Homo sapiens: one gene and its partner. The protein of the gene in region 2 interacts with the protein of the main gene of each other region in a pairwise test. Each region holds a gene or a part of one and is shown on either strand. Other genes may lie near its edges.

Region 1 (7,582 bases), on a different chromosome or scaffold from region 2:
AGCAAAAGAAATAATTGATCATTGAGGTGAGGAAAAAACATAGTAGATATTATTTCACATTAAGCTTAGGATAACTCTTTTTAAAAATTCATGAATATTTTCCACATGATTCCCACAAGCAAACCACAGGAATCTTTAGCAAAATTATTACTCATTCACCAAAAACTTGCATAGCATTCTCTTAGTTAAAACAACAGCAAAAACACTGATATGAGATTTCTTAAATTTTATTTTTTCATTTACAGAACTTGTAGTTTGATGTTTAGTACATGTTGTTTCTCTATAATAAAGCAGCAAATACTTCCCAAGATGTTTTAATTATTTTATATATTGAAGTCTATTGGCAAAATAATGTGTTGGCTTAATTTAAAACATGCATTTACACATACGCGCCCACAAATTATGTCCTTAAAGTTGTGTCAAAAAACATGTGGTTTATTTCCTGAAATGTCCATCTAATTTTGTTGCTGAAACACAGCTGCAGTTACATGACCATATATGACAAAGTAATACTTTTATATGTCAATCATACCGAATTACCTTCTGGGGAGTCCTATCCAGATATATTTTTCAGAAATAACTTGTTCTCAATCTGATACCGAATCCAATGATCCATAAATAACCTCCAGAACACGGGTCTTCTCAGATTCCAGCCAGTAGACTAAACCAATGAAGTTTCTTTTTGTGTGAACGTGCTAAACCAATAAAGTGTTTTAAAATCTCTTTGCTTCATATTTCTTCTAATAATTTATATTATGACTGTCTTGCAAAATGCAATTGTGGTTATACTTTTCATCAGCCCTTCAGAGTGTATAGTAAATAATAACAGATGCTACAGAGAGAACATAAGTTTTTTTAGCTAGTCTATTTCTGAACTTGTGAGTGTTCAGATTCAGTTTGTCTTCTGTCTGTGTCTATTTTGGTATGGACCTGTGAAATCTTAAATCACTCATACTGTTTAGAAAAATCTTAAAATAACCACTATGTAAATCCCAATTCAAATAAACACAGATGATGTGCTGAATTCTTCCTACTTAAAAATCTCCATTCATTATTTCCTCCGATGCCTTAAAATCTTACATAGGAATTAGGAAGAGGATTAGTTTTTATGTGTTTTACATTTAATATTGCTAACATTGAAAAAACTATTTTAATATTGGCTATTTTGTTGTAAACAAAATGAATGTAAGAGGAGTTTACAAGTTTGTTCATATCTTTACCAGATCATGGTTTTGTGATAGATAAGCTAAGTTATATGTATACAATTTTCTGTTAGCTTAGACATCAATTGTAGAAAATACCATTGTTCACAAGATCATATTGATGATTTTGTTTCCAGTTTTTTAGAGCCCAATAATGGCTTAGTTATGAAAACATTTTAGCATACGTATATACCTATTTAAATGATTCACGTTTACCAGAGTACTTAATTTATTGAAAGAAACATCTTGAAAGGCATTTGAGAGGATACTTCCAAAATATTTATTATAAATACATGTTTACTATAAGTAATTTTATTCATAAAATAATGAGGTTCAAATAAAAATACATTATGCACTCTTGTTTATATTATTTCAGGATTAATGTAGCTTTGGTAATCAACTTTCAACATTGGCATTTGAAATAATAATCTTAAAAACCTTACTGAACTTATTTTTTTTGAAGCCACAATACTGAAATAGTCTTAACATGTGGATTATATGCTCATCTTTAAAATCATTATCTTGGAACTGCACTTTGCTGTAAAGTTGAAGCAGACTACTCATTGCAGTTGTTTAAACCACAGCCTAAGAAGTGCTACCCTTTGCTTAACTATTCAGCTTCAGTTTGAATGACATAGTTATTGCCTTTGAGTGAGACCCAAAGGATTCTTTTCCCAGGTAGCAGCTCTTTCAAGTAGTAAAGATGTTTCAACAGCTCTACTATTCTATATGGGGTTTGATTTAAAATTGAATTTTCTGAAATCCAAATAATTAGAACATTATTTTTCCCCTGATAGCTATCATTAAAATCTCTCAAGTTAAAATGTCTTTTCTGTTGAATTCAGGCTAGAGCATTGACACATGCAGGTGACTATATGTAATTTAAGCAATTCAACTAGTTGGGATACAGAAAAAATGAAATACTTGTCCCAGACAAAATCTTTAGCAACATATTGAACATCCTCTTTAAATCAAATTATAGCAATAACAATAACAATTTACAAAGTTATGAGTATTTTCATCATGTATTCAAAATGATCATTTCTCTGTAATTCATGGTCACAGCCAAATTACAACCCAAGATAATATTTTGCCCTGGAAAAAGGAAGAATCCAGTGTTCAGGAAAATCCTAAGTTAACATCTTAGAACTAAAATTAGGAGATAATAATGTAAGCTCTTTCAAATATACAAGTTCAGAAAAGAATTTTATGTGGTTAGTTAATTCAGAGCTCTTGTAAGATAAATATCAAAGAAAAAAAACCTAGTTCCAAAATGGGTTGCCTTTATGACTAACATGCTTGACAGCCTTTGTATCATTGGAAACCTACTGTTAAGAATATTAAACATATAAATTATACCCCTGGCTTCGTATCTGGCTCTTAGTGGCAGAAATAATAAATTTTGGAAAGAAACAAGATATTGGGCTTGGTTAACTTTACATTAATCTGTGTATTGACACTAAAATCCTTAACTTTTTCACTCTTTTTTATATGATTATCTAAGTAACATTCTGGTTAGTAAATATCCAACATCAAGTAGTATAAAGCATAGACCCGATCATGTATATACACATATGTAGTGTCCTTACATTGGCTGATGAGCAGCAGGTTGCTATTCAGTTATCCTATCGACATAAGCTTGCCAAACAGTCTTTTTCTTCTCAGCTAGGAATTAAAAGAAGAGCATGCAATTTGGAACTTTCCAATAAATCAAAGAGAAAAGCAGCCTTACCTCTTTTTGTTTATATGGCAGAGGAGCTCCACAGCATATTCCTCCCCGTTCTCCGGGCGAGCTTCTCGGGCCGTTTCAGCACACGGACAGCTCCTCTGCTTATAGGGAGCCGCTGCGCCTGACTCCGCACTGCCACACTGACGTCACCGGGTTCAGCCACAAACCCCAGCACAAGCGAGGTTTTTCAAAGAACCAAGAGAAAATAATCACTTTATATTTAAAAAAAAAAAAAAAGAAAGAAAGAAAAGAAAAGAAAAAAAAGTTGCATGCTTACGCCACCTGTCTTTTTGTGGCAAAAATTGCAGTTTTCCTTTTTCTTTTATCAAAATCTTTGAGACGGAATAAACTGCTCTGCACGATTTCTCTTACAAAGAAAGAAATGTGTGTCAGACAGACATGGCTAATTGCAAGACAATCTCATCTATGTTCTAGCAACTTGTTATAATAGTTTCTTGGTGTCACTGTTGTAATTGTTGTCGTCGTTGTAAGAAAGTTTTACAGACAAGGATTATTTTTTCATCTTTGCCCACAAAGAAATTACATTACCATTTCCTGTTATAACCAAGATGAATGGAGGACACATTATAAATATGAAAGGCCATATTTCTTATCATGACCACAGCCATCATTCTTTTAAAATCATATTTATTTGAATAAAACAGAGAGTTCTCTCTCTTTTATATGAGAGCCAACTTTAATAGCTTATATAGTTTTTTAAATGGGTATTTATCAGACTTCAAGCTTAGTAGCTAATAATTCTTTATATCTCTGTTACTGTCTTTCACAATATCTGATCTCAGAAAGGGAAGCTCAGAAGTTGAGTGCTGATGAAAATACTTTCATCTACTTAAAAAAAAAGTCTTTTCACTGTTTGGGAAAAATGTGACACATACGTAACTAGAATTCATTTGCAATCGAAAGGAAGTTGTACTATAAATATTTCCCTTCTCCTGTTGAATCAGATGAGTTGAATACCTTCCATGAATGTGAACAATCCAGGGAATAATACAGCAATTAACTTTCAACCTCTCAGATTTATAATTCATAATCATTCCTCTGCCTTACCAGATAACCTGATTATATATTTCAATAATTTATATGGATATAAATTTTAAACTTTATTTTATTAAAGATATGAGTTTCTAAAAACTGTATATGTTGACATATACTTTAAGAATGCAACAGAATCTTGCCATATAAGAGATCCCATGTGTTTCTGCTAAATGAACAATCAGCCACTGACTCAATAAATTGTAATACCTACTAGGTGCCAGATACATTGCTAAATGCACAATTGTTAACTAATACAAAAATAAGTGATTTTTTTGCCTTTGATGAGCCTTTCAGCTAATGGGGATGACATGCAAATAAACACATAATTTTCATATAAATTGGAAAGCATCAATAGAGAGGTTAGCTAGCAGTGTTTGGACCATTTGGATAGCCAATGGGTTCAACCTAGAAATTCAGGGGGAAACAATGTCCTGGAATAAAAGGCCTAAGCTGAGATTTCTCACTATCAGGTTTTCTTACAAGGATTTCTAACTATGTTAGTACTTTTGAATTCCTCGAAAAAATAGGAAATGGCTTAAAGTCTTACAGAAAAAATCTTGGAAAAATGTGCCTCGATTCTCCCTATTTGGTTTTCCTAAACGACTAGGAGATCATCATTTGTGGATTGATATGAATTCATATACACTCAGACTGGGGTTATATGTCCAATTCATCCAACAAATTTTGCCTCATAGTGGTTTTTTAGGGCATGATCAAATGCTGGGTTGAAGAGACCTAAATATGACCCATTTCTCAAGCATCATCTCAATGACACCAGCTCATTCACTGACATCCTTAGCTAAGATTGCCTTAAATCTTAACAAAGCCCTGGCTAGCTGCTCCAAGTTTGACCTAATTTTCTGTCCAGCAGTTCTGTGTGACCAGTTCAACTAACCAGTATCAACGCAGCTTTAGAAAACTCTGCAATTATTCTTAAAATGTTGAGTTTGTTCAGCATAGGTCTCAAAAGCCCTCCAGAAAGTCATCCTGACTAGGCTAATTCATTTATGTGGAACTAAACTTTTTGGCAAGAACCAGAAGCTACGGTTCTTCTAAAGCCCCAGAGTCAACATCTTGCCTGGAAATATCTTCAATCATCCAAAAGACATGCAAAACCTCATTCAAAATCTCCAAGTAGATGTGAGATGCCAGGAGGCTGTTGCTGGGATGGATTGGCTCCACTAGGCTCAAGATGTGGGTAGAACAATAAGCCATTGTGGGCTATTGAATTTCTGCCTATCTTATGAGACTATGATAAATACCTCTCACTTACTGAGTTCTGTTATGATCCAAGCACTGTACTTGGAACCTAATTTAATCCTCCGGACAACTATAACAAGTAGGTATTTTTATCTCCATTTTACAGATGAAGAAACTAAAGCTCAGAAATAAGTAAGTTGCCCACTATTTTGACTTATAATTGGTAGAGCTAGAATTTGTATTTAAGTCCATTCTATGATATTTCTACAATAAAAACTATGATTCAGACACTGCTAGAGATGGAAATACAGAAATAAATATGGGATGGATTTAATCATTAAAGACCCAAGTCCAGAATTTAGTTTCTTTGACAAAAACCCCCAGTTGTCCAGTTGCTTTTCCTGGTCTAAGAAAAGCAAAGGCATAGGCCGGGACTTCTATTTGGGGCAGCACCAATGGAAAGCAAGAATAAACATTAGATCACAGCCTTGATGCTATGGGGCATACATCTTCCAAATAAGAGAACAGTTGCTGAATTAGGAAAATTCTATTCACCAGCCTGTTTTTTCAAAATCAAACTCCCCAAACATATTTTTTAACTTTCAAGTTCAGGGGTACATGTGCAGGTTTGTTACATAGGTAAACTTCTGTCATGGAAGTTTGTTGTACAGATTATTTCATCACCCAGGTATTAAGCCTACTACCCATTAGTTATTTTTCCTGATCCTCTCCCTCCTCCCACCATCCACACTCTGATAGGCTGTGTCGTTCCCCTCTTTGTGTTCATGTATTCTCATCATTTAGCTCCCACTTACAAGTGAGAACATATGGTATTTTGTTTTCTCTTCCTGCATTAGTTTTTTAAAGATAATGGCCTCCGCCTCTATCCATGTCCCTGCAAAGGACATGATCTCATTCTTTTTTTGGCTGCATAGTATTCTATGATGTATATGTGCCACATTTTCTTTATCCAGTCTGTAATTGATGGGCATTTAGGTTGATTCCACATCTTTGCTATTGTGAATAGTGCTGCAATGAACATACACATGCATGTGTCTTTATAATAGAACAATTTGTATTCCTTTGGGTATATAACCAATAATGGAATTGCTGGGTTGAATGGTAGTTTACATCTTTGAGGAATCACCACACTGTCTTCCACAATGGCTGAACTAATTTACACTCCCACCAACAGTGTATAAGCATTCCTTTTTCTCCATAACATTGCCAACATCAATTTTTTTTGTTTTTATAGATTTTTCAATGTGTTATATTTAACATATTTCCAAAAGTCACTAATTTTTTGCCAGTAGTTATTTGTTCTAAAGGGAGCTATTTCTCAAATAGAAATGTATTTGGAGAAGAATTTAAAATGATATATATATATATATATATATACACACACGTATATGTACACACACATATATATATATCAATAGTTTGTTGACATAAAATATTTTAGAGCATGTATAAAACATTAAAATAACCTATAAATCTTTGTATCACTGAACCTGTTTCAAGGAATTATTTAAGCATGCCTTACAAAATTTTAATTTTCTTGTTAGATCTAAATTGCCAACTATCATCACCGCCAAGAAACGAATCTCTATATTGTGAACGTTTTCAGAATAATTATGTACTATGTATGAAAATGGATTTTTAGAAAATTAGCTTGCATCCTCACCAGGGTGCTGTTAATTTCAAGTTAATCATTCACAATTTAACGTTAAGTAATTAGAACAGATGAGTTTGTTTTTATGACCGGATTTTCTTAAATCTTGGTCATTTTATTCTTTGTTATTCAATTTCATATTTTATCTAGACAAGATTTTGATTTCTATCATTCATACAAGCAATCCTCTACCTTAGTAATCTTTTCATTTGAAACTTCTCGCTCTTACACTCCATTACACTTCTCATTTTGTTTCAATTTATATGGAAGCAATTGAGATCCAGAAGGCCAATGTGTCTTGTTTCTCCTTTTTCTCTTGTCTGCTTCTTCCCTGTCTCTAACTGCCTCCCTGCCTGCCCTTCCCTCCCATGGAAGATCAGACTCTCACGGTGGAGTCCAGATGCAGCACGCTTCAGCTGAGGTCCTCCAGCGTTCACCTGACTGTGCCAGCAAGGAGGGTATAGTGTCTACCCCGGCCCCTCAGGGCCTTGGCTACTTGTCCTTGCTCAGTCCTCACCTGCCTGCCTGCCTTCTCTTCTTTTTACTTTTTTTTCTTTACGCTCCTTGTTTACTCTTTACCACCTTTATCTTTTGCTTCCAAAATTTAAATTCCATTCTCTTAGTTGTAGTGCGCTTTATTAACAAATGACTGTTTTTTAACTCAGTGTCAAAGAAGAGTGAAATATTTTTCCCCTTCCCTTGCAAAGGCAGGGCCTGCCAAAT
Region 2 (7,028 bases):
ATCCCAAATTTGCACATTTCTCCCTCCACTATGCCACTCTAGTCCAAGCAGCCTTCATTTCTCACCTGCTAACTGCAACATCACCCTCCCCAAATCTATGCCCAATACTGCGTTTCCACATTATAGCCAGAGTTATCTTTTTAACAATCTGATCATGTAACTCCTTTGCTTAAAATTCTTCAGGGGACCAGAAAATTCTCATGGTTCTTACAATAAAGATCAGAGTCCATCCATGGCTCATAAGGCGCTGCATGGTCTGGCCTGGGTCCACCTCCCCAGTCTCTTCTCTTTTTGCTCTTTCTTTCTGTGCCAGCAACACTGTGCTTGTTTCAGTTGCTTGGATACTCCACACATCCTTCTCTATGTGCTGCCTCTCATGTTCACAAGTTAACTCCTATTTGATCTTCGGTTCTCAGCTCAAGTTACTTCCTTAGGGAAGCATTTCCTGAGCCTAAGTCCAGGTCAGCCTCCTTTTTTGAGGTCTCATAGAACCATGTTTCTTTCCTCAGAGCACTTAATGCAATTGTAATGAAAATACATGATGATTTAAACATGATCTACCTCTTCCACTAGACTTTGAGCTTCATGAGTCAGGGATTATGTCTTTTTAAATAGGCATGGTATTTCCAGTGCTTGGTACAGAGTTAGTATTCAATAAATATTTGTTGAAATAATATTTCATTTGTGTTTTATTTGCATTGATGCATTCAGGTAACATGAGTAAACAGGTCAAGCATATGAACATTTTAGAGATAGGTGAATAGGAGTATGTAATGGGAATGAAGAATTATGGAAATAGCTGTGTCCATTTTAGCTCAGACTGGTAAGCTTGAGCAAAAGTCATAAGGGTTTTTTTTTTTGATAAATCTAGAACTTTTTTTTTGAGTGGGTGAATCTTCAAAAGCTGCTTTAAAAGATGGCAGCTGGTGAGGATTGGAAGTAAGGAGAGCAGAGGAAAGTTTTTAGGCTATCCAGTAAAAAAAAAAAAGAAATCCAGACCCAATTTCTATTTTCTCTCCTCTCTAAAACAGAACCATCAGCCTCTATAGTCTTTGTATTTGAGATAAGATGCTGGAGGAGATGAGGAGCCATGGGTCTGGGTGCTTTACAGAGGAAAATCAAAGGACAGATGAGGAATTTGATATCCCCTTATGGTCAGTTTCATCTAAAGTTTTAAAGAGAATTCAAGGTGGGGAGAAAGATCTCAACAGCTTGGTTGGTGCTAAGGAAAAAATGAAGACGCAAGGAGTCCAACAAAGGGAAGGAAGGATGAAATTAGCCTGGGTAAATAGGCATCTAAACCAATGAAAAGGGGAAGGAGCAGGTGGAAGAGCATTGCCAAGAACAGAGAGGCAGCATTAGGCAGCTAGCTCTGGGGAACACAAAAGCTGGTGTAGCAGAAGATCTAGTCAACCCACTTCTTTGTGGGGGGATTGGGCACAGATGATGACATCTGCTGTGAACAGATGTTGGATACCAAAAGAACTGTGAGATGTTTGCTTGCAGTTCACTGGGACTGTACACACAGATGTTATTATGTGATATTGTTACTTCACATATTATTATGTATTATTTTACTGTGGGGTATAAGATGTAATCTTTACCAAATAATAGAATATAACATAATCTTTACATTATTTTCAGAGTAGAGATCATTTATATCTTTTAACTTTTTGGTATTTTATGTATATACATATTTTTAAATTAATTAATTAATTAATTTTTTGAGACAGGGTCTCACTCTGTCACCCAGACCGGTATGCAGTGGTGCAATCATAGTTCACTGCAACCTCAAACACCTGGCCTCAGGCGATCTTCCTCTCAGCCTCCTGAGTAGCTGAGACTATAAGCTTGTGCCACCACACCCAGCTAATTATTTTTATTTGTAGAGATGGGGGTCTCATTATGTTGCCAGGTCTAGTCTTGAACTCCTGGTCTCAACTCCCACCTCAGCCTCTCAAAGTGCTGGGATTACAGGTTTGAGCCAACATGTCTGGCCTGAATATAAATGGGCTAAAAATGCCACATACCTCAAATCTTCTTTGGTATCAAGTAAGGCAATTATTATACAGATAGAAGTACACACACACACACACACACACACACACACACCCCCATGCATATGCATATATACACATACATACCACTTTCTCTGGTATTTTTCCAGCCTGATTCTCAGTCCAGCTTGTGGGCTTATTGGGATCCTCCTCATAATTGTTGGCTTCCTTTGAGATTAATTTTTGTAAAACCTCTGCTACTTCATCTTCCAGTGTATGTGCTTGGCTTTCTGTGATCTATCATAAAAAGGCAAAACATATATAACTGCTATATTCCCAGTCTTGTTATTAAAAAATAATGTGGACTAAACTGTAGTCAAACATGTATTTTTTAAAGAGGAATCTTCTGAACCATCTTTCAGACAGCCCTCACTTACGCCTGCACCACATGCTGGCTGTTATAGGGATTGCTCAGCACTCCTGGAAGAAGTATCTTCGGGCCCACCATGCAAGCTGTTAGTTCTATCTGTTGAAACCCATGGACCACATATTTTGAGAAACACCCTGAGCATTGCCCCTCCACAGCTTTGGGTCATAGTCAGATAACCTTTGACATCCTACAAAATTAGCATCTTAATAAAGCCTGTCAGGGCCAGGTCAGGGCAGAAGAGCCAAGCTGAGGTGGATTCAAATTAGATCACCTGGAGTTTCAAAAATACACATCACATGCTTTTGCTCATGTTATTTCTTTTTTTGTCACATACATGTCTTTTACCTCTGCTGGTTATATCCTAACCATCCCTCTAAGCTTCCTTCATACGCCTCTTCCTCTGAAGCCTTTCCTTACTGCCAGTTGGATATAAGCTATTCTCTGGCTCTTATGGTTTTTAAGCAGCTGGCATTTTGGGCGTGTGTCTACTTGCCTAGTTCTTCTGATGGATGATAAACTCCTAGAAAAAAAAGAATGGTGCTTTGCTTGTCCTTAAAACCTACGGGTCCTAGTAGAAGGAAGACACATTATAAACACTTGGCTACTTGAGGCAAGTGACTTGGCTTCTTGGCATACTCTAAACTGCACTAGGAATTTGGTTTATTTCCTACCAAATGACTTACAAGGCCGAGATTAAGTAGTTTAGAAACAATCTTGTCAAACACGGCTCTGTCATTTTCTTCATAAATCCTGGCAGCGATTTTATGGACAATGTCTTCAGCGGTTAAAGGAGTCCCGTCTAGTTGATGAAGACCATCTGGATCATCTAGACAGAACGACCACAACTTCACACCATAGTGATCATAGATCTATTTCATGCATCATATTATACTTATAATCTGTACTTCGCTTTTGTATATTCAGATATGTTTGAAATGTATTTATGGTGGTTCTCGGTCCACAGAAACCCTCGGTTTGAAATAAAATTGGTCTTCATGTTAAAAACTTAGTATGATAATGGACATTCTGAAACTTTCTTAGGTGACTATAAGAGGAAGGAAAAGCTAAAGGCAACAGAAAAGTAGTCTCCATTTATTGTTATCACCAATAATACAAACCATATTATACTTTTTATTAACATAGTATGCCATATTTATATAGCATGTCATATTATTCAATGTACCCTTCTATATATTGTATGATTTGATATTCCAGTTCCATACAGGGAATAGATAGTTTGGTAATATCCCCACATGTACTACCTTTGCAGGCAAATTCCTGGGGTAGGGGCAGGGACTTCTACCTCACACCCAGAATCAGACAGTGTGTACTGAAGATTTTATGACTCACCTAAAATAAATATTTACTTCTAATTGAACTTGTATTAGAGTGTCTTTATGTAAAAAAGGCAGCTTAAGGTGACAAAACTCATCCTTAGAGAACAGGGATCTTACTGTAGTTTATGTGCCCGGAATTTAAACTTTTAAAATATGGCAACAGATCTGCACAAAGCAATATGTAAATCTTTGCAGAGAAGCATGCTCATATGCTCCCTTGGCTCTCCTAGGAATACATTTGGCAATACAACTTCAGACTAAAGTAAGGGCCCATCCTGAGGGAAAGGGCTGGTGGCAATGAAGCATTGTAGCACATCCATGGAGATCTTCCAGGAATCAATTATTAGTCATCTCCAATCTATACTACATTGAATGGATCAAATTTACAATGCACTTAATTCTCCCTGTTTCCTCTGGAAAGATTGGAAAGATCAGAATTTTAGCCCCAGTGATATCTCTGGTTAGCTATATCCTTGGATCACTGTAAAGGAGTCTAACAAGGTATCTATTTCATGGGATTGTTGTGCCATTAAAAGTAATGGCAAAAACCGCGATTACTTTTGCACCAACCTAATATATGAAAGCTAATGTATTATTGTTATTATGCACAGTGGATTTGTATTTTGAAACAAAGGAACAGCAATTATCTCCTAGAGAAAATGGAAATTGAATCTCCGGCCAGATTCTGCCCAGACAATCCTCATCATATTCACTCAAAGAAAGAAGAGCCTAGTATTTCTATTCTGATTCTGCTCTTTTCTTCCATGGGTTTTGGGGATTTGGACAGGGAATTTATCCCGTGGCTTTTCTTTCAGACTCTATGAAAATAGAGGTATATGCAGCCTCAGGCAGAATATCTCTTTCTTGTTTGGAAAGAAGCTTAGGAAAATGAGTGGGGGTAATTATACATGGAGGACTGGAAGTTCTCTGTCAGTACAAAATTGCTGAGCTGTTGGCCAGCCCATGAGCCATGAGCCCTTTGAGCTGAGTACCAGAGAGACAAAAAAGCAGAAAAGCCCCTAAGAAAAACAAACAAACAAACATACAAACAAACAAACAAACAAACATAAAATCAGTTCTCCTCCTGGCTGGCTGAAAATTTGGATCGTCATCTATTTTTCAGGAGCAGAGACTCACTATTATGTGTCTGATTTTTCCATTTGCGGATTGCAAGTCAGGCTGTCAGGAATACATAGAGCAGAAACTGCCCCAGTCTATGCAGAGGTGGAAGAATTTATTTCCCTTCCCACTTATCTATCCCTCAGGATCCGTAAAAGGAGGAATATTGGTTGCCTCCTAGACCTGGAAAATAACTGAGATGACTGTTTTTCAGTCCATTTACTTCACAACAGGGAGGATGTTAGTAACCCACTGAAGAGTCTTTGCTCTGCTGCACTGCTGTACTCTCTTGAGCCAGGAACTTAGGTCTCCCCTAGCAGTGCTTTGCTGGATGGTGTAAACAGTGGAACGTGTGACCATTGCTCCTCACCTTTCCCTGATTTCCTTCACTATTCTAAAATGGATAGTATGACTCAGAATGGCTTCCCTCCTGCTCATGAAGGGGTATTTCACCCTCCATGTATAGACTCCCAGAGGGGAGCCAAACATGGGTTTAACACATAACTTTTGTTAAGTAGCCACAACATTCTAAGTGAATGTCAAAGGGTCATGTCCCAAGTCATCATCTGCCCAGTTATGTTTTGAATCCCTAGCATCTAACATAGCACTTGACATTCATTTGTTCAATATATTTTAATTAAAGTCTTATTATGTGTCAGACACTGGAAATAGAGTGATGTAAAGGTTAGGCATGCTCCCTGACTACACAGGGTTTATTGTCTACCTCATAGTCCAATACATAGCAATTGCTCAATAAATATTCGAATGCATACAGGAGCCCCAAAGCACTACTTTATAAGAGAAATTTGGAAAGATCCTAAATTGTGCATACTATAGAAAACACTGAAAAGGAGAATTGATGGGTCCTATAGTACAAGCCTGTTTGGAAGCTTCCTAAAGGCGAGAGTAGGTCTGGGAACACATCCGGCAGAAGTTAGCTTCCTTTACCTTCCCCTCTGGGATGAAGTCTACATGCATCTGAGGTTCTATTCAACTTAGTGGCCAAAAACCCTCTGGTTTCAGGATTTCCAGAGCACAAGGGGAGACCAGAAGCTTACTCACAAATCATTTTCTCCAAGAACCTTGGCCTGTCTTCTCTGTGATCTCAAGTGGAGTTAATACCTCCTACGGTAAACCTGAAGTCATTAGGACTAGCACTTTGTAGTTCCAAACATACTTGGGATGGTAATAAAATGTTGAACAGTTAAAAAATTAGTTGCTCAAATTAGCGGTCAGATCAAAAACAGATCTATGTCTCTGCCTGCATGTACAACAAGTTTGACCAATCCAGCCAACTCAATATTAGGCTATTTTATTAAATCAAATGATCACTTCAGTTGAAGTGGTTGAATCTGTTTTGTATGCAGTTATAATCAGTGTCTATTTGTAGTCCCAATATTTTAGGTAAAAAAGTCGAATTCAAGATTTTAAAAAGTAAATTTCCCTGAGTAGCATGGCATATGATATATGTCAAAATATAAACCCATTGCCTCCATCCCACTTCATAGGTACACGTGACACTTCAGAACACTCCTAGGTTATTATGTCCTATGAAAGTCCAATTTAATAGTCAGTTGTTTTCTGGCAGAGATAATCAACATAAATCTCCTGTAGCTATGGAACAGAATAAGGACAGGGAAGAAAACCTGTACTTACTCCTAAGCACTGGTTCTCAAAAATGAAAAACACACTTTCCTTCTTAATGCCTAGGTATGGCAGTTCATTTATTCCCTCATATATTATTTCATTTGTTCATTCATTCATTCATTCATAAATTTATTCAATGAATTCATGGGCTTCCAGGCACTGGGGTTACAATGTCTCTATTCTTATGAAGTTTTCAGTTTAGTTTTGGAGAAAGGCATTAATCATAAATAATCACACTTATGAAGGTAAAATTACAAACTGCATGAAGTGCCATGAAGGGCAAGAACAAGGTTTCTATCAGATTATGTGTGCAGGATGAACCTAGAAATGTAGTCAGGAAGCAGTCCATGCAGGACTGTGCAAGCTTCATTAAGGACTTTGGTTTTCCTGTTTTGTTTGTTTGTTTAAGATGGAGTCTGGCTCTGTCGCCCAGGCTGGAGTGCAGTGGCGTGGTCTTGGCTCACTGCAGCCCTTGTCTCCTGGGTTCAAGTGATTCTC

The links.
Region 1: the proteins of SCG3 (region 2) and SCG2 interact in a two-hybrid assay, tested with the Homo sapiens proteins (one study listed by IntAct).

Annotation. Positions count from the first base shown.
Region 1 is NC_000002.12:223,599,351-223,606,932, forward strand, and holds the start of SCG2 (secretogranin-2 precursor), read right to left. Parts: upstream 3,012-7,582; 5' UTR 2,935-3,011; intron 1-2,934. UniProt on the Homo sapiens protein: Neuroendocrine protein of the granin family that regulates the biogenesis of secretory granules.
Region 2 is NC_000015.10:51,684,485-51,691,512, reverse strand, and holds part of SCG3 (secretogranin-3 isoform 1 precursor), read right to left. Parts: intron 3,254-7,028; coding exon 3,111-3,253; intron 2,295-3,110; coding exon 2,145-2,294; intron 1-2,144. UniProt on the Homo sapiens protein: Member of the granin protein family that regulates the biogenesis of secretory granules. Acts as a sorting receptor for intragranular proteins including chromogranin A/CHGA. May also play a role in angiogenesis.